Regions from separate parts of the Homo sapiens genome. Here all the other regions are linked to region 3. Evidence: fine-mapped expression QTL. A gene starts in region 3. Each other region holds a variant in brackets. All regions are shown on one strand. Distances are from middle to middle. Region 1 overlaps PLPP1 (phospholipid phosphatase 1). Region 2 overlaps PLPP1 (phospholipid phosphatase 1). Region 3 holds the start of PLPP1 (phospholipid phosphatase 1).

Region 1 (5,000 bases), 96 kb after region 3:
AACGTCTCCCTTAAATTCCTTTTGAACAAGGCAGAGTGTAATAAGTAAATTACTTAAGAGCCGGTCCCTCTTGTTTTTGTTCTTATTCTTACGTAGGGAAAAGTGGTTGGGAGATGCATTCTAGTTATTTGCATGAGCATCTTTTCGTGGCATACTTTCACTGTGCCTGATGTGCTTGCCTCTTCTGCATCAGTGGCTCATTCTGTATAAGCAAATCTTAGATCTTTAATGTTAGCTCTATTTTTCTTTTCTCAGAAGTGCCACAAAATTAAGTTTTGTAAGCATTCTGTCATTTTTAGGTGGGGAAGATGATACTTAGATGTTTATAGACTCTAATATTGAAAGAAACAAAAGCACTGAATTTGGTGGGAAATGTAAGGCAAGATGTGTGCCCATTTAAAACACCAAATTTTTTTTTTTTTGAGATGGCGTCTCCCTCTGTCACCCAGGCTGGAGTGCAGTGGTGCGATCTCGGCCCACTGCAGCCTCTGCCTCCCAGGTTCAAGCAATTCTTCTGCCTCAGCCTCCCGAGTAGCTGGGACTACAGGCACACGCCACCACGCCCGGCTAATTTTTGTGTTTTTAGTAGAGATGGGGTTTCACCATGTTGGCCAGGATGGTCTCGATCTCCTGACCTCGTGATCCGCCCGCCTTGGCCTCCTGAAGTGCTGGGATTACAGGACTGAGCCACTGCGCTGGGCCAAAATACTAAAATATTAATATGGATGGAAAAAAGCAATCAACTTCTGAGTGTTCCCAAGGAGGTATGACATTATTCAGGGACTAATCCTGCAAGTGGAAAATAAAACTTAAATCATGGTCACATAAGTGTGTATGTAATAAAGTCAAGGCAATTTGTGCCAGTTATGACTTGTCAAGTATCATTCTTCTGACATCTTAGAATTGCTTGGCAAGTTTATTTTCATGACACATTACCCATCCTGAAGGTTTCAATAAAATGATACTGTATAGAGATCTGACCTCAGATCCTTCTTGCACTCTTTAATGTTCATGTCCTAATTGTCCCCCTGCCGTACCCTTCTAATTTCTCAAAGTAGAGGGAGGCAGTTGTGTACACTCTGAAACTAAGGAGCAGATTTATGAAATCAACAATACTTTTGGCTCCTAAGAGAGAAAAGTAACATTTGTCTTCTTTTTCTTCCAGGTTGTCCTTCTATTCAGGCCACTCTTCGTTTTCCATGTACTGCATGCTGTTTGTGGCAGTAAGTACTTTGTGTCTGTTGACGGTTAGGTTATGTGCTGCATGGAATTAATGTGCTCAGCATCAGTGTCCTCACCTGTCCTAATAAATTAGCCAGTAGCAAAAGGTGAAACAGATGATCTGCAAATCTGTAAGTTTCATACTGAGAAGTAGTTGATGTGTGCCCTTACTTTGGGACGTTTCCTGAAGTGGTTTTCTGGAACACAGCTTCTGTGTAATCACAGCAGGTAACTAATCTGAAGGACTGGGACAACAGGCTGCTGTTGCTTGTTAACCTCCTCCCTAACTGGGAGCCACTCTCCTCATCTGCTCAGTGTGGGCGAACAGCAGCAGAGCTTCTTTCCTTCTGGGCTCTGCTGTGGTGAGGAGTTGGGTTTTGATCATTGTTAAGTGAAGGCAGCTGTCCTTGTTCCTATTTGAGCAGATTTTGTTTTCCTCCCATTTTCTAAAACATTCCCAGAGTGCTCTGCAAGGGACCAGAAAGGTTTCAACTGCTGGGAAAGGCAGTTGCCACTTCTGGAGCCTGTCATCTATACAACTTCCAGGTCCAGTTCTGATGCCAACCTGTAGAGCAGCAGCATAGCAATTTGCATTTGCATCATACAAAGCTGGCAGTGAGGCCTTACGAAGATTTGCACCCACATTTTGCATTATCAAACTAGAGATGAATATGTAGTTTTTTGAGAGTAACTAATGCAAGACCAGGCTTCAGGACACATTCAAGGGATTTTTAAAGGTCAATTTTACTTGATTTTTATTTTTTTATAATGTTCTCTTTACATATAAAGTATTAATAAAACACTATAT[ATT/T]TGGGTGTATTAATATGTCCTGCATTATCATTATTTAGGGGGAACAGAGAGGAGGGTTAGAAAATCTGTACCCTAATAGATCAGCTATAATTTTTGTCTTAATTTTCTTTATAAGGGGATTTTTATACAGTTGTGTTCTGTGTAAATTTGTCATTTCCTGTGTTTTTCCCTTTGATCACATTAAGTGCCGTATGATAATTTAATGCTTAGACTTAAAATGCACAATATGTAACATTAAGGGTAAACTAATGGGAATTAGTCTCAGAGATAATTTAAAATGTTTTACTAGAATCTTGCTTTTATTTGAAAAAACAAATTCCAAACATTAAAAGAATATGTAAATTGTAGATGTGTTATATAAAATTCAAAGTCAGAACCTCAAGCCATTACAACAGCTAATTTTCAAAGCTTTCATCTTACATTAATTAAATTTTGTGAAGAAGCACAGAGTATGATTCAGCAGAATTTAGGGCTTCCTTTTTAAGACACACACTCAAATGTTTCTGCAGATGCAGCATGGAAAATGTGACTTATCTGAAGGTAGTTAGCAGAAAATACTATTCTGACATCTTCTGTTCATTTATCATATTAGAAAAAAATCAGCATTCTTTCTTAAGTGAGACAACATATTTTTTTCTTTTTAATTAGAGCACGAGGACCAGGGCAGACCCGGAAGGCTGAGCAATAGCTAGAGCCGTTACTATCCTGAGAGCTCTTCCCAGAGCATGGGCCTGTGACTGGACTGAAGGGCGTTTGAATGTGTGGGCGTGCTTTGTATGCCCTGGGCTAGACCTCACTAGGTCTAGCTTTTGTCTCACTAGCTATTGTGGTTTGTTTTTCGCTCACCTGTCTGTGTTAGTGTCCAAGTCCCTCTTTATGAGAAATCTAGAAATCTGAGTTTTGATTGATCTTGATGATGATTTGCATTTTACACTACTTTTATTTTTGACTAAATTTCCATGAAAAGATGAGGGATGACTGCCACTGTTTTACAAGTGAGGGAATAGGCACCTTGGGAGGGGGCTGCTGAGTTCTGTGAGCTCTGTGGGGTTTCTTGATAATCAGGATCCCATGCTGTATTGATTGATTGATTACTTGGTCTGAACCCTAGTCCATTTATTTTGAAGGTCAGCTCATGCAGATCTCTGGAAGTAAAATGGCATTCTGGAAGTGACTGACACATAACTTTGACCCACTGTTTGTAATTTTAAAGAAAATTCTCAGCTATAACATATTCCATACTTCATCATTTTCTGCTCTTCTTCCTTGACCCTTCTCAAAACACCCATTAACGTCTGTGTAATTGGTCAAATAGTAACTTGTACTGAGGGCTGTTTTGTGAAAGATTAAAATTACTATAGAGAGGATGACATTGATATAATAGAGGGCCTCAGTGGCAGGCCTGCTCAGTGGACATGCAGCCACATATGAAGGATATCAACTCGGGAAAATGATGTCAACCATAGTGTGGTAATTGGGTCAGTTTGAACCAACTGTGTTAAAAGAACAACTTTAGATAAATTTAAGGGTGTCACTGGGCAAGGAAGAAACGACTTTCAAATTGGGCAGCCCTCAGAGTCACTGCAGATTCAGAATGACTCCACTGCTTCTAAGTGGTCAGGGAGAATTTATGGACAGAAAAAGGAAAGTGAGTACAGAAAATGGAAGCGAGGTGCAGAAACTGCCGGATTGGTTACAGCTCGGCCTTGGAGCTTTATTTGAGCGTGGTTTGAATGGCTGTGAGTGGTTGAAATATGGCTGCAGGGACTGGCTGAGACTCAGCTGCTGTTACAGAAGCACATTCCTGAGTCAGGCTCCCAGTTTGCTTACTTACCAAATTAGGTTGTTCTTTGTACAGAAGAACTCAAGTATGTGAGCAGGGGGTTTTCAGGACAGATTTTAGTTTGATTTAACAGATGTAAAGTTATAATGGCAAAAAAAGAAGCCTAGATAAATAGATTTGTTGTAGACCAAGACCTTTCTGGAGAAGAAAGCAGGCCAGAGCAACCATGCACTGCATTTTACTGACTCTAGGTAGTGGAAATATTTGCTTGATGTGGATGTAGGCCCCAGCTTTTATTTCAGCCCTGAATACACAGATCCTTGCTTTTTACATTTATGTACAACTTTTTTTTTTTTTTTTAGACGGAGTCTTGCTCTCTCACCCAGGCTGGAGTGCAGTGGCGCGATCTCGGCTCACTGCAAGCTCCACCTCCCGGGTTCACGCCATTCTCCTGCCTCAGCCTCCAGAGTAGCTGGGACTACAGGCGCCCGCCACCACGCCCGGCTAATTTTTTGTATCTTTAGTAGAGACAGGGTTTTACCGTGTTAGCCAGGATGGTCCCAATCTCCTGACCTCGTGATCCGCCTGCCTCGGGCTCCCAGTGTGTTGGGATTACAGGCGTGAGCCACCGCGCCTGGCCTATGTACAACATTTAACCTCTAAGCCCCACCCCCGAATTCCTTGAGCAATGACTCATCTTGTTTCTCTGGGCACCTTGGCTTCATGAGTCAGTCTCAGATTTGGGTAGAGACGTAGTCATTTAAATCCTCTCCTAGGACAGTCTTTGATAGCCAAAACTTCTCTGTCAATTCCTGACACCCAGAAATTAACTTCTAGTTAAAAATGGCTCTTAAAACACCCTGACCATTGTTCTTCTCTGGCAGCCAGTGCAGCCCTGCACACTTAACTGTGCCAAGAGAGTGTCAGCATCAGTGAAAACCTCCCAGGCCTGCGGGAGCTCAGGGCAGGGCTGCTTTGCACATAGCCAGTTTATATGCTTAGTGACTCCCCGTGAACTTGGCTGAATGCCAGAGATTCCAAATTTATTTGATTATTCAGGAGAACAGCCATGGTATGAGTCTGTATTTTCTTTCAATACAGTGAGGAGTGTTAAAATACTTTTCCTGAGACCCTTCTATTGAGGCTGTAACCCCAGATTGTTTATATCACCGCCTGTTATGAAATT
Region 2 (5,000 bases), 90 kb after region 3:
AGCAGGCATGTCAGATATTTTGACAACCATTACTTTAAAATATTGTCACATATATATTATCCCTTTTACATCAAGTTGTGTTTCCAGTATTATCACCGTGTTATGTGAAAGTTTAGTTTAACCCCCATTTGATACCTTTCCCTGGAGCTGCTGTTAATAGTTTGTATTTCCTTTCAGTCATTTTGCTATGTATTTTTATATTGAATGTGAAATTGTATAGTTTGTGTGGATTAAATAAGTAACATTTAAAATATGTCTTGGAGACACAGCTTGTATCAGTTCACATAGAGCTATTCATTTTAGTTAATATGTTGTACAATCAGTTCTCCATATCTGTGGATTCAACTAACTGTGGATTGAAAATACTTGTGAAAAAAATTGCATCTGTACTGAACGTATACAGACTTTTTTCTTGCCATTATTCCCTAATCAATACAGTAGGACAACTATTTACATAGCATTTACGTTGTATTAGGTATTGGAGGTAATCTAGAGATGATTTAAAGTATATGGGATAATGTGTGTAGGTTATATGCAAATACTGTGTCATTTTATATCAGGGACTTGAGCATCCATGGATTTTGGTATCCTTGGAAGGTCCAGGAACCAGTTCCCCACAGATACCATGGGGCGACAGTATTCAGAATAATGCTAGTAGAATCGGCTGGGTGCGGAGGCTCATGCCTGTAATCCCAACACTCTGGGAGGCTGAGGTGGGTGGATCACCTGAGGTCAGGAGTTTGAGACCAGCCTGGCCAGCATGGTGAAACTCCATCTCTACAAAAAATACAAAAATTAGCTGGGTGTGGTGGCGCACGCCTGTAATCCTAGCTACTTGGGAGGCTGAGGCAGGAGAATCGCTTGAACCCAGGAGGTGGAGGTTGTGGTGAGCCAAGATTGCACCACGGCACTCCAGCCTGGGCGACAGAGCAAGACTCTGTCAAAAAAAAAAAAAAAAAAGGTGCTAGAATCTTCCTTGGGTCCTTGAGTTTCCGGCAGTGTTGCAGTAAACGTCTGCATTTCTCTAGGAGACATACCTCAAAGTGGAATTACTGGGTCACATAATACATTTTTCCTATGTTGATTGATATTTCCAAACCATCCTCCAGAAAGTGTGCAATATGAGAGTGCTCATTTTCTCATTCATCACCTACTTGATTCCTTAAGTATCTTAGATGTGAGATTCTTGTAGATAATAATCTGATATCTCATTGCCAAATCATTTAGCACAGTTATCGATTGTCAAAATCTTTCTGAAATAAACTATGACTAATATACTTAGGAAAAGTTTATGTTCATTAAGAGGTCATTGCTCATATATCCATTTGTAGCATTTGTACAGGACATTTTAACTTTTTTATAGGATCAGTCCATGTTTACAGATTATCAGAGAGGGGAACTTATGCTATACTTCAGGTTAATCTGCTGTTATATAAACTTTATAATCAGGAAATAACATTTGAGAAAATGCCTCGTTATGGTTTGATTTCCTTTTTTTTGCATTTAGAGTGTACAAAAAAGACAAATTGGTATTCACTTAAAATGATTATTTACTGAACTCTAGCCTGAGTGACAGAGCGAGACCCTGTCTCTAAAGAAGACAATTTTTACATTGACAACATCTATTTCTTCATGGATTAAGTCTAATTTCTTCTTCGTATATTTACTTTACACATTTTGCCACATGTAAACTGTACTTTGTGATGGAACTCCCCTGCCTGGAGATGGCAGGATTAAAGTTCCTCTTTGTCTGTCTACCATTGACAAGAGTGAAATCATGGCACAGAAAGAGTTGGGAAGACTCAGATTTGAGCTGCAGAGACGTGACTTTTCGAGCAAGTTACTGAACCTGTCTGAGAATCATTATCTCTGTGTGAGCACGAGAGTTTTTGTGAAAGTAGAAACGCTGTGTATTAAGTACCTGAACATACTCAGTAACTTGTAACAATTATAAGTCTTTAAACAACCTTTCTGCCTTATAATGCTTTGGGAATCAATTTCAGGATGATTTTTAGGGGAAAAAGGAAATTCTAATTTGTAGCAGAACCAACTTTGGCATACCTGGGGGAAATGGTGGTATAGTAATAATTTGAAACATTTTTGAGCATTGGTCACTGTATAATTAAAAACAAACCGCTGTTGCTGAAACTATTTTGTCTGTTAGTAAAGTGACTGATTTTAGATAGCATTTCATTAGTTCTAAGTGTTCTTTTAAAAAAGCCTGCTTCTATTTCTGGTAACATGGAGGATTAGAAGTGCCTACTGATAATAGTTCAGCTAAACGTGCTACATGATA[C/T]GTTACACACACACTTGTGTATACTGTATCTTAAATTATATATACACATCTTGAAACACATTTAAGTGTTTTTAGTAAATAGTTTAGCTGGTGGGAGAGTAAAGGGATTTTTCTGAGGCCTGCGTCAGTTAGTGCTGTAGATCCAGTGTGGTCCTTGAAAGTATCTGCCGGTTCCTGGTGGCATAGACACTGAGTTTTGATAGGCAGTGAACATGGGGCACAGATATAAAGGCTGAGGCCGGGGAAGAGGACATAAAAGACATGTGGATAATGTGAGAACTCCCGAAGAGTGGCAGCATCCTCCCCGTGGGAGCTATTAAAAAGAATTCTTAAACACAGGACCACACTCACACTGGTCTGGAGCAAGAATTCATACTATTTGGTTTAGGAAGGAAAAGGAAAAAAAGCTTGAAGTTTAAAGTGTATTGGTAGTGAACCCAGCATAAGTGAACACATACCTTCTCTGGAGGAACTCTCCTTAAACCAAGGCTCAAAGATTCCCCTCAGATAGAGTCCTAATGACTTCATTCTAATATAAATGGACCTATGTGGAAACAAGCTACCCTGAGACAGTCAGCAAATACAACAAATTACCTAAACTCTCAAAGAGATTACAGATATTAGAATTACCAGGTGTAGACTAAAATAAGAGGAGATAGAAAATATGATGTGGGATGAAGAGAATCAAAGTTGGCCAAGTAGGTTTGGAACCAAAGGGATTTGTAAATGATACATATATGGTAATTTAAAATTTACAGTGTAACATATTGATTAAGCAGATTAGATACAGTGAAAGGGATGACAAAATGAAAGATACACCTAAAGAGACCTAGATGAAAAATAGAGAAGAAAGGGTAAGAGATCTGGAGGAATAGAATGCAAAGGTCTTACGTGTTGAATCAGCATCCCATAGAAAGGTACGAGGATGGAGGATGCCCAGTATGCAAAGGTGGCTGAGGACTTCTACAAATTGGTGAGTCCTCAGATAGAAGAAGCCAATGAATACTAAACTAGAGCAATAAAAGGAAATCCTAGTACTAGACACAATGCAGTAAAACTAGAATATTGATTGATGGGGGCAGGAGGAGAGGAAGCAGTTACAGAGAAAAGACAGATTACCCAGAAAGAACTGGCTGACAGATGGCTTATATTTTAACAGCAAAAGCAGAAGCCAGAAGATAGCGCAATGATAGCCTCAAAGCGATGAGAAAAAAAGTCATCAATTTAGAATTCTGTACTCAGGAATACCATCATTCAAGAATGAATGTAGGCTGGGCACAGTGGCTCATGTCTGTAATCCCAGCACTTTGGGAGGCCGAGGCAGGCAGGTCACTCGAGGTCAGGAGTTTGAGGCCAGCCTGGGCAACACGGTGAAACCCTGTCTCTACTAAAAATACAAAAATTAGCCAGGCATGATGGCAGGCGCCTCTAATCCCTGCTACTTGGGAGGCTGAGGCAGGAGAATTGCTTGAACCCAGGAGGCGGAGGTTGCAGTGAGCTCAGATTGGGCCACTGAACTCCAGCCTGGGTGACAGAGTGAGACTCTGTCTCAAAAAAAAAAAAAAAAAAAAAAAAAAAGAGTGAATGCAAAATAAAGATATTTCAAATGAAAACAGCTAAAGATGTATCTGTTTTGTGCTTTTTAACTTTGGAGAGTAGGGAGGAGGAAAGGAAGAAAGTCAGGTGGTGGGAAGAGATCAGAGATGATCAGCTGGGTTCTTTGTGATTTAACCTCCTTCTGAGCCCCAAAATACTAAATTAAGATATGCTTTATATGAGTTGATTGCTTTTGATGCTGATGAAGGATGGATTTGATTGTGTCTTTGCGATTTATGAGGCTGAACATGGATGTGGATGTTGGAGCACAGAGATAGAAGAATGCTCAGTCGAGGAGGGAACTCACATGCATGGGGGCAGGCGGATGCAGGCAGATGGCTATGAATGCTCTCAATGCCATGATATTGGGGATCAGGCCAAGTTTAATCAGCTCTGAGAAGGGGGTGCCCTGGCTGGCAAATGTGAGGAAAAAAACATCATAAAGTTGCCATTTGAAATAGAATCCCAGGCTAGGCGCGGTGGCTCACGCCTGTAATCCCAGTACTTTGGGAGGCCGAGGCGGGCAGATCACCTGAGGTCAGGAGTTCAAGACCAGCCTGGCCAACAGGGCGAAACCCCATCTCTACTAAAAATACAACAATTAGCTGGGCGTGGTGGTGCGCACCTGTAGTCCCAGCTACTCAGGAGGGTGAGACAGGAGAATCACTTGAACCCAGGAGGCAGAGGTGGCAGTGAGCCAAATCACGCCACTGCACTCCAGCCTGGGTAACAGAGCGAGACTCCATCACACACACACACACACACACACACACAAAATAGAATCCCATTCATAGTGATTTATGTAGTCAAAATCAGTTTACTTAATAATTGAAGCTGGCTTATTGTTCAGTAGACCACCCCTCAGAGTCAGTGAAAACAGCAGCATTTCAAAATACATTTTTCTCTCCGTAAATTTTCTTCCTGAGAAGATTTTCGTAAGATTTGGTTGGAAAGCTGGCTCACATTGTTACTGTACTGTACTTGCCTTCATCAGAGAGGCTATAATGAAGTGAGATGATAGTCTAGGATTGGTTAAAATCTAGAATTGGTTAAAGTCTAAGGGCAGGGTTCTTAGGCCAGGGCCATAGTCTTAAACATTTCAGTGAAG
Region 3 (8,518 bases):
AAAGACCAGTGACACTGCATTTCTTGGTCTGTCCCTCATAATCAAAAGATGGCTGCTGTAGCTCTAGATATCAGGTCCATGTTCAAAGAAGGTAGAAAGGAAGGGAAGGGAATTCAGCCTTTTCCTTTGGTCAGGAAAGCAAAAACGTTAAAGAAACCTGCCAGTAGATATCTGCTTACATTACATTTACAAGAACTCTATCACACAGCTGCTAATAAAGGAAGTGAAATGACAAGCCACATACTCGGAGAAAAAATTTACCACACAAAGAATTACTATGAAGAGCATATGAATAACTTCCACAATTAAATAAGAATAAGATATACAATAGAAAACAATAGAAAAATGAAAAAAAAAAATAGAAAACACAACAGAAAAATGGCAAAAGACATGAACAGGCAGTTAATAGAAGAGGAAACATTTTTGGTGAATACATTTAGGGAAAGACATCCAACCACATTAGTGACCAGGGAAATGCAAATTAAGGCTACATTGAGATACACATTTATACCTACTAAATTAGCAAAAGTTAAGAAGTCTCAGAATATTGCATTGATGAGAATGTGGAGTTTCATCCACCACTAGTGGGGGTGTGGATGAAATGGTATAACCATTTAGTAAAACAATCTGAGATTATCTCATGAAGTTGAATGTGGACATACTACAAAATGCAGCTAGTAATTCCACACAAGAGACATGTACACAAATGCCTGCAGCAAGCATTATTTGCATAAATGAAAACCCCGATGACTATTGTCAGAAGAATGAACAAAATGATGTATTCATATGACAGACCTACTATTGCAGCAGCATGAATGAATGTAAGAAATATAATTGAGTGAAAAAATATCAAGGGCAGAAGATTAAATCTATGGCATAATATTTTTAAAAGCTAAAAAACAAGCAAGTGAAACAATATATATTTTTAGAGATACATATGCACGTGGTTAAACGATATGGAAAAAACAAAGCTAGGGAAAGGTAAATATAGAATTCAGGTGCTTTCAAAGATTCTGCAATGATCCAGGTGTTCAGTTGAATAGAATTGTAGATTCATAGTTGCCCATTTTATTATGCCTCATAACTTATTATTATTTATTTGTTTTTTTGAGACGGAGTCTCGCTCTGTCACCCAGTCTGGAGTGCAGTGGCAGGATCTTGGCTCATTGCAACCTCTGCCTCCTCGGTTCAAGCGATTCTCCTGCCTCAGCCTCCCCAGTAACTGGGACTACAGGTATGTGCCACCATGCCCAGGTAATTTTTTTGTATTTTTAGTAGAGACGGGGTTTCACCAGGTTGCTCAGGCTGCTCTCGAACTCCTGACCTCAAATGATCTGCCTGCCTCGGCCTCCCACAGTGCTGGGATTACAGGCGTGAGCCACCACGCCTGGCCTTTCATAACTTATTTATATGTTATATATTTATGTATCAAACATTACATGATTAAAATTTTTATTTTATTTTTATTTTTATTTATTTATTTTTTGAGATGGAGTCTCGCTTTGTCGCCCAGGCTGGAGTGCAGTGGCACCACCTCGGCTCACTGCAACCTCCGTCTCCCGAGTTCAAGTGATTCTCCTGCCTCAGCTTCCCAAGTAGCTGGGATTACAGGCGCGTGCCACCACATCCGCTAATTTTTGTATTTTTGGTAGAGATGGGGTTTCACCATCTTGGCCCGCCTCGGCCTCCCAAAGTATCGGGATTACAGGCGTTGAGCCACCGTGGTCGGCCGATTAAAAACTTTAATAAGGTATGAAGCAAATGGCTTTGACAAAAAGTGTAAAAAGGATTAAAATACACCATCCTGTGAAATTTTCTTTTTGGAGCACATGTACTGGGGAACCAGACATCGACATTTTTAGTTATTTTAGTTTCACAGTGCTATTTGAGTATAATAGAAACTGTATTTGCTTCAGTCAATTTGGGGAGAAAGAACATAAACACATGGAAACACAAATATCCTAAGGGAATTGAGTCTTATTACTTTGCAGACAATTTTTGAAATAAATAAGTTGCTGAGACAGTAAGTGCTGTTAGAATGGAGAGAGGGAGACTTACCAATAATATTATGTTAAAGAGCAGTGCAAGTAGAGGAGTGGGGACAGAATTGAGCATGCAGAGGTATCGAAAGAGAAAGTGGAAATGCAGCATGTAAATTGCAGATTCCTTTTCAAGAAGTTTAGTAATGACAGAAGAGAGGAAATTAGCTTCTTTCTTCTTCAGGGAGCTTCAGGACTGTTCTTCGGAAGCCCACCCTACTTTGCTTTTGTTTGATGCCTGTATTACAGGGAGAAAAGTTTGGCCCAAGGACAAACTTTGTTAAGCATTTATGCAAGCCTCTGAGGTTTCTTTCTTTATTTTTTTAAAGTATTTTTTTCTGGGATGCACAAACTCCAGAGAAATGGAGTCAGTGCTCTCGCTTCTGAGGTTTCATGTTCAGTCCAGGGACACACTCATAGCTGCCCCCCTCCCCCGGGGGTATTAATGGTGTTACCATTTAATTCGTGTTTCCTTTTTAAATTATTTTCATCACCATTTCAAAGTTATTTAACTCATTCTCAATTCCAATGATCACACCAGAATTCAATTATGACAACAAACCAAAACAGTCAAACAAAAAAATTCCCCCAAAAAGGAATGAAAGCTCCCCATTCCAAAACAAAATGATGTGTCATAGTCATTCTTTCCACAAATAAGGGCTTATTAATTGTTTTTTTTTTTTTTTTTGAGACAGAGTCTCCCTCTGTCACCCAGGCTGGAATGCAGTGGTGCGATCTTGGCTCACTGCAACCTCCGCCTCCTGGGTTCCAGCGATTCTCCTGCCTCAGCCTCCCGAGTAGCTGGGATTACAGGTGCCTGCCACCATGCCTGGCTAACTTTTTTGTATTTTTCTTTTTTTTTTTTGAGATGGAGTTTCACTCTTGTTGCCCAGGCTGGAGTGCAATGGCGCAATCTTGGCTTACCGCAACCTCTGCCTCCCGGGTTCAAGTGATTTTCCTGCCTCAGCCTCTCAAATAGCTGGGATTACAGTCATGTGCCACCAGGCCTGGCTAATCTTTGCATTTTTATTAGAGACAGGGTTTCTCTTGTTGGTCAGGCTGGTCTCGAACTCCCACCTCAGGTGATCTGCCTGCCTCGGCCTCCCAAAATGCTGGGATTACAGGCGCGAGCCACAGCGCCCAGCCTACTTTTTGGTATTTTTCATAGAGACAGGGTTTCATCATGTTGGCCAGGCTGGTTTCAAACTCCTGACCTCAAGTGATCCGACCGCCTCAGCCTCCCAAATATTGCTAGGATTACAGGAGTGAGCCACCGTGCCTGGCCTTATTAATTGCTTATAATCTGCACATGGCACAAGTCCCATTTAAAATAACAGGAAATGACAATGCATTTTAATGGGCTTTGGTTTATTAATCTATTTTATTTATTTATTTATTTATTTATTTATTTATTTATTTATTTGAGACAGAGTCTAGCTCTGTTGCCAGGCTGGCTAGAGTGCAGTGGCATGATCCCGGCTCACTGCAACCTCCGCTTCCTGGATTCCAGCGATTCTCTTGCCTCAGCCTCCATGTAGCTGGGACTACAGGCACGTGCCACCATGCCCAGCTAAGTTTTGTATTTTTAGTAGAGACGGAGTTTCACCATGTTGGCCAGGATGGTCTCGATCTCTTGACCTCGTAATCCACCCGCCTCGGCCTCCAAAAGTGCTGGGATTACAGGCGTGAGCCACCGTGCCCAGCCCTAATCACATGCTTTCTAAGTGGGCCTCAGGATTCCCCTTGTGGGCAGAGAACTTCTCTTGTTTATTTTAGCTTCTTCACAGATGTGTACCAGGTATCCATTAGGGGCTCAATAAATGTTGAATTAATGAATGTGTGAATAAACAAAAAATCACTAATCAGTAAGGTTTTTTTGAATGCTTATTTTTGAAAACGCACTTTAAGAGTAAATTTTTTTTTTAAATAGAAAGAATAAGATCTAGTACTTGATAGTACAACAGGGTCACTATAGTTAATAATTAAATTGTACATTTTAAAATAACTAAAAGAGTATAATTGAATTGTTTGTAATACAAAGGATAAATGCTTGAGAGGATGGATACCTCATTTTCCATGATGTAATTATTACACATTGCATACGTGTATCAAAACATCTCATTACCCCAAAATATATACACCTATTATGTACCCACAAAAAGTAAAAATAAAAAATTTTTAAAAAGTAAATGTTTTTAAAAATTACTTTTAAAAAGTAAATATTTCAAAAGCTGTTTAAGACACTGAGACTAGACTGTAACACAATAGGTGCTCAACAAATGTTTTTTGAATAAATACCTAATACTCAGACATCACAAGTACTTTGAATTTATTGTGACCTTGCAATCTGAGGCCCTTGTAACTCTGGAAGTAAAGAAAGCTACATGATAAACAATGGCACATCTTTCTCAGGTGTAAATTGCTTAAAGCTTTTACGGCTATTTAAACAAGAGGCAAAATAAAACATTAGCATTCGTTTTAAAGAAAAACATCTTTCTTCAAATGTATATTTTGTTTTTGAGAGCTTACTTGGGGCTGTATCTCCAGACTCTGTTTAATGTTATCTTTCCATTGGCTTTATGAGTGCTTTGCAGGATAAGTCGAAGAAGTAGTAGGCACATTTTGTGATTTGTGTTTTACATATTTAAAGAGAAAATATACCAATCATTAACATCTGTAGACGGTTTAACTCTAGATAAAGCCACTATCATATAATCTTTTCTGGGTTTCACTTCTTCCTCCAGACTGGAACACTGGGCAGCTTAAAGCTGTAAAAGCTTTAAGCAATTTACACCTGAGAAAGATGGGCCATTGTTTATCATGTGGCTTTCTTTACTTCCAGAGTTACAAGGGCCTCAGATTGCAAGGTCACAATAAATTCAAAGTACTTGTGATGTCTGAGTATTAGGTATTTATTTAAAAAATCCCCATTTTACATATTAGGAAACTGAGATTACTAAATGTGGGCTAGGGTCCTCCTGGGTATGGGGCAGGGGGAGTGCTTGCTGCTGTTAAAGAAAATTATCCTGACACTTGTCAAACACATGAATAATTTATTCAAGATTATTACAATAAGGGTCATGACTATTGGAACAGGAGAGAGAAATTGAGCTCAACTCAGAATACAGCAAAGACAGCAGGGGATTTATAGCCAAGGAACAGGCACCGTGTCTGTGAGGGAGGTGACGGTGGATGGAAAATTACTAAGAGGAGACATCAAGGGTAGAGGGATTCTGGCTAAAGGCAGGTCAAGGGCTTCTACAACAAAGGTGTAATATAAGGAATCTAATCCGATATTAAATATCAAGAATTCAACGGTGATCAGGTATCGAGGATGGATGATTTAGCATGCTTCTTGCTAACATTTGGGCTCAGCCAGGACACAGGGAGGTCAACGTTGAGGCCTAAGTGAGAAAGGGCTCAGAGGTACCAAACTAAAGGAGAGCGTCTCTGTTCCTGCCTACTCTGACCTCTTTTCCCCCCTTAAACTCAGTGGTAACAATCTGACCTGTTTATTACCTCATCCCCATGGAAGGGGTGGGGAGTGGCAGGCAGCCGGTGCTCTAGGATCGTTGGGTAGGGAGCCTAGCTCTCTGAAAGCAGCAATGCCTAGTGGGGGTACCGAGGCCGAGTTCGGAGACCACCTGAGCAATTGCGGTCCAGAGCAAAGCCCCCTGGATCGGAACGGGAGCCGCCCCCACGCCCCGCCCGGCTGCCGAGAGCCGCACTTCTGGGCGGATGCCGCAGGTCGGGAGGGATGAGGCCGACGGCGCTGATTGGCTGACCGCCGCGGCCTGGGGTTTCCCTGGCCCCGCCCCTGCTGCACTCCCCCCGCCCGCGAACCCGCGCGCTGCCCGGTCCTGCGCTGCTCAGCGGGAGGGGCTGGACCCCGCGTTCCTCCTCCCTGCCGGTCCCCATCCTTAAAGCGAGAGTCTGGACGCCCCGCCTGTGGGAGAGAGCGCCGGGATCCGGACGGGGAGCAACCGGGGCAGGCCGTGCCGGCTGAGGAGGTCCTGAGGCTACAGAGCTGCCGCGGCTGGCACACGAGCGCCTCGGCACTAACCGAGTGTTCGCGGGGGCTGTGAGGGGAGGGCCCCGGGCGCCATTGCTGGCGGTGGGAGCGCCGCCCGGTCTCAGCCCGCCCTCGGCTGCTCTCCTCCTCCGGCTGGGAGGGGCCGTAGCTCGGGGCCGTCGCCAGCCCCGGCCCGGGCTCGAGAATCAAGGGCCTCGGCCGCCGTCCCGCAGCTCAGTCCATCGCCCTTGCCGGGCAGCCCGGGCAGAGACCATGTTTGACAAGACGCGGCTGCCGTACGTGGCCCTCGATGTGCTCTGCGTGTTGCTGGGTACGTACGCGCCGCCGGGTCCGAGGGGCGTGTGCGGCTGTCCCGGGAGGGCTTTAGCGCAGAGCCGCGACGGGCAGCGGGGGTGTGTTGCCTGACGCGTGCGCAGCTGTGGGGCGACACACGGGGGCGGCTTCTGCAGCCGAGGGACCCCGCTTTGCAGCCTGCACCCCGGCTCCCGCGTGCCCGCCGCTGTCTGTCGCCCGCCGGTGCGATGAGCCCAGCCCTGCTTGGACGCTGTTCACGCCTCTGCGCTCCATACCTTGCTCCTGTCCTCTGTTTGCAGTTCCACTCTAGCAGAGCAGGGTGGGCTCCTCCCCTCTGTACGGTAGAGGAGCCTGGTCACTGGCCCATCTCAGTAGTGAAACTGGAGGTTTGATGCACAGGGGATTCTCAGTAGCAGGCGCCAGTGCCTGATTTATCGTGAGAAGCAGTTTAATATTTCGGCTATAAAAGGCTAGAACTAGTTCCTAATTAGAAGGTGTGCCAGGTTGTAAATTGTCAGGTTGCAAGTAGGGATGAGCACGCCAAGTTTTTGCGTATAGGTCTAAAGAAGTTTTGGGGGTGGGGGAGGATGCGGTACCCCAGACCTGTTTCCTTGTCTGCCCAGACCTTGCCATGGTGTAGCTTTCCATCTCTTGTGACAGTGTCTCAAGGAGCAGTAGACATTCTTTGGCTGCAGCAGATTTCGCATTGTCTTCCTGATTGGAAGAGTTCAGTTATGAGGCTTCTGGTTGCCAGTTACTCCTTTCTTTTGAAGAGAAAGAACTGGAATCATTTGGATAAGGGATGGGCGTTGGAAGGAGTAGTTTTCACTTTTTATGTATTGTATAAGGCAGTTATGCTGTGAACTATTTATATATGATGGAATAAACAAAAACAAAGCAAGAGCTGCTGGAGGTTTGGATAGTCCTACTCATGTTGAAGTAATCAGAATAGTAGTAGTATTGGCAAGTTCTCAGGGTGGGAGATCTGTGGCTTTAGCCACCTGGATGGAAGTCTGCGTAATGGTTTCTCAGTGACAGGAGATTCCCTCGGTTTTAATCCAGTAGTTCCTAGTTATTCCACTCTCCAGTTTCCAACCGGGTCATTTAGGCCCTTGCAATCTTGTGGAATTCTTATAAATTCTGTTACCAGGTTTTGTTGTTGTTGTAAGGAAAAATTCCATTTTGTTATCTTTTTTTTTTTTTTTTGGATACAGTCTCTCTCTGTCACCCAGGCTGGAGTGCAGTGGCGGGATCTCGGCTCACTGCAGCCTCTGCCGCCTGGGTCCAAGTGATTATCCTGTCTTGGCCTCTCTAGTAGCTGGGATTACAGGCACCGCCACCATGCCTGGCTAATTTTTCTGTTTTTAGTAGAGACAGGGTTTCTCCATGTTGGCCAGGCTGGTCTCGAACTCCTGACCTCAGGTGATCCGCCTGTCTCAGCCTCCCAAAGTGTTGGGATTACAGGTGTGAGCCACAGCGCTGGGCCCTAAAACTGCATTTTGTTACCTGTTAATATGAAGCATCTTTGTTGTTTCCCAAGACACTTCCTGTTTAGGTCCACAGTGAGTTTTAGGAATTAAGTTTAGGAAAGTGGAACACAATTTTGGCACATTGTCTTTTTTTTTTTTTTTTTGGAGACGGTCTTGCTCTGTCGCCCAGGCTGGAGTGCAGTGGCGCGATCTTGGCTCACTGCAACCTCCGCTTCCCGGGTTCAAGCAGTTCTCTGCCTCAGCCTCCTGAGTAGCTGGGATTACAAGCACATACCACCATGCCCGGCTAACTTTCGTATTTTTAGTAGAGACGGGGTTTCACCGTCTTGGCCAGGCTGGCCTTGAACTCTTGACCTTGTGATCCACCCGCCTTGGCCTCCCAAAGTGCTGGGATTACAGGCGTCAACCACCGCGCCCAACTGAACACTGTCTTTATAAAAACACAGTCCTTTCAGATGTCGGGACTTATTAATAATTAAATATATTCAAATTTATTTGCAACAAAAAATTACCTTTCATAGAAATGTTACATTAAAAAATATATTTTAACTTATACTTGATGTCATTGGAACTTTGTTAAACTTTGTTTATATTTTAGTGAAAGGAGAGGAAAATGTTCGATCAGAAAAAAATATATTTCTAATATATTGAATATTATCCTA

What was found. PIP is the estimated chance that this variant, and not a neighbour inherited with it, causes the effect. A credible set is the group of variants that fine-mapping cannot tell apart.
Region 1: its variant is the best candidate, but not a certain one, in a credible set for the expression of PLPP1 in whole blood (TOPMed, PIP 0.83).
Region 2: its variant is the best candidate, but not a certain one, in a credible set for the expression of PLPP1 in lymphoblastoid cells (TwinsUK, PIP 0.62).

The regions. Positions count from the first base shown.
Region 1 is chr5:55,438,074-55,443,073 of GRCh38, reverse strand. It overlaps PLPP1 (phospholipid phosphatase 1), which reads left to right. Exons shown (of 6, transcript NM_003711.4): 4 at 1,166-1,223. Among named protein-coding and RNA genes, the nearest start is that of MIR5687, 68 kb to the left of the region's middle. RefSeq lists enhancers at 1,081-1,619, 4,110-4,937. The variant ATT/T (reference allele first, on the strand shown) is at 2,030.
Region 2 is chr5:55,444,410-55,449,409 of GRCh38, reverse strand. The region is part of intron 3 of PLPP1 (phospholipid phosphatase 1); the gene reads left to right. Among named protein-coding and RNA genes, the nearest start is that of MIR5687, 62 kb to the left of the region's middle. The variant C/T (reference allele first, on the strand shown) is at 2,297.
Region 3 is chr5:55,532,436-55,540,953 of GRCh38, reverse strand. PLPP1 (phospholipid phosphatase 1) reads left to right here and starts at 5,990. Exons shown (of 6, transcript NM_003711.4): 1 at 5,990-6,382. The coding sequence starts at 6,325. It also overlaps the pseudogene RNF138P1. RefSeq lists an enhancer at 5,468-5,537 and a silencer at 5,768-6,407.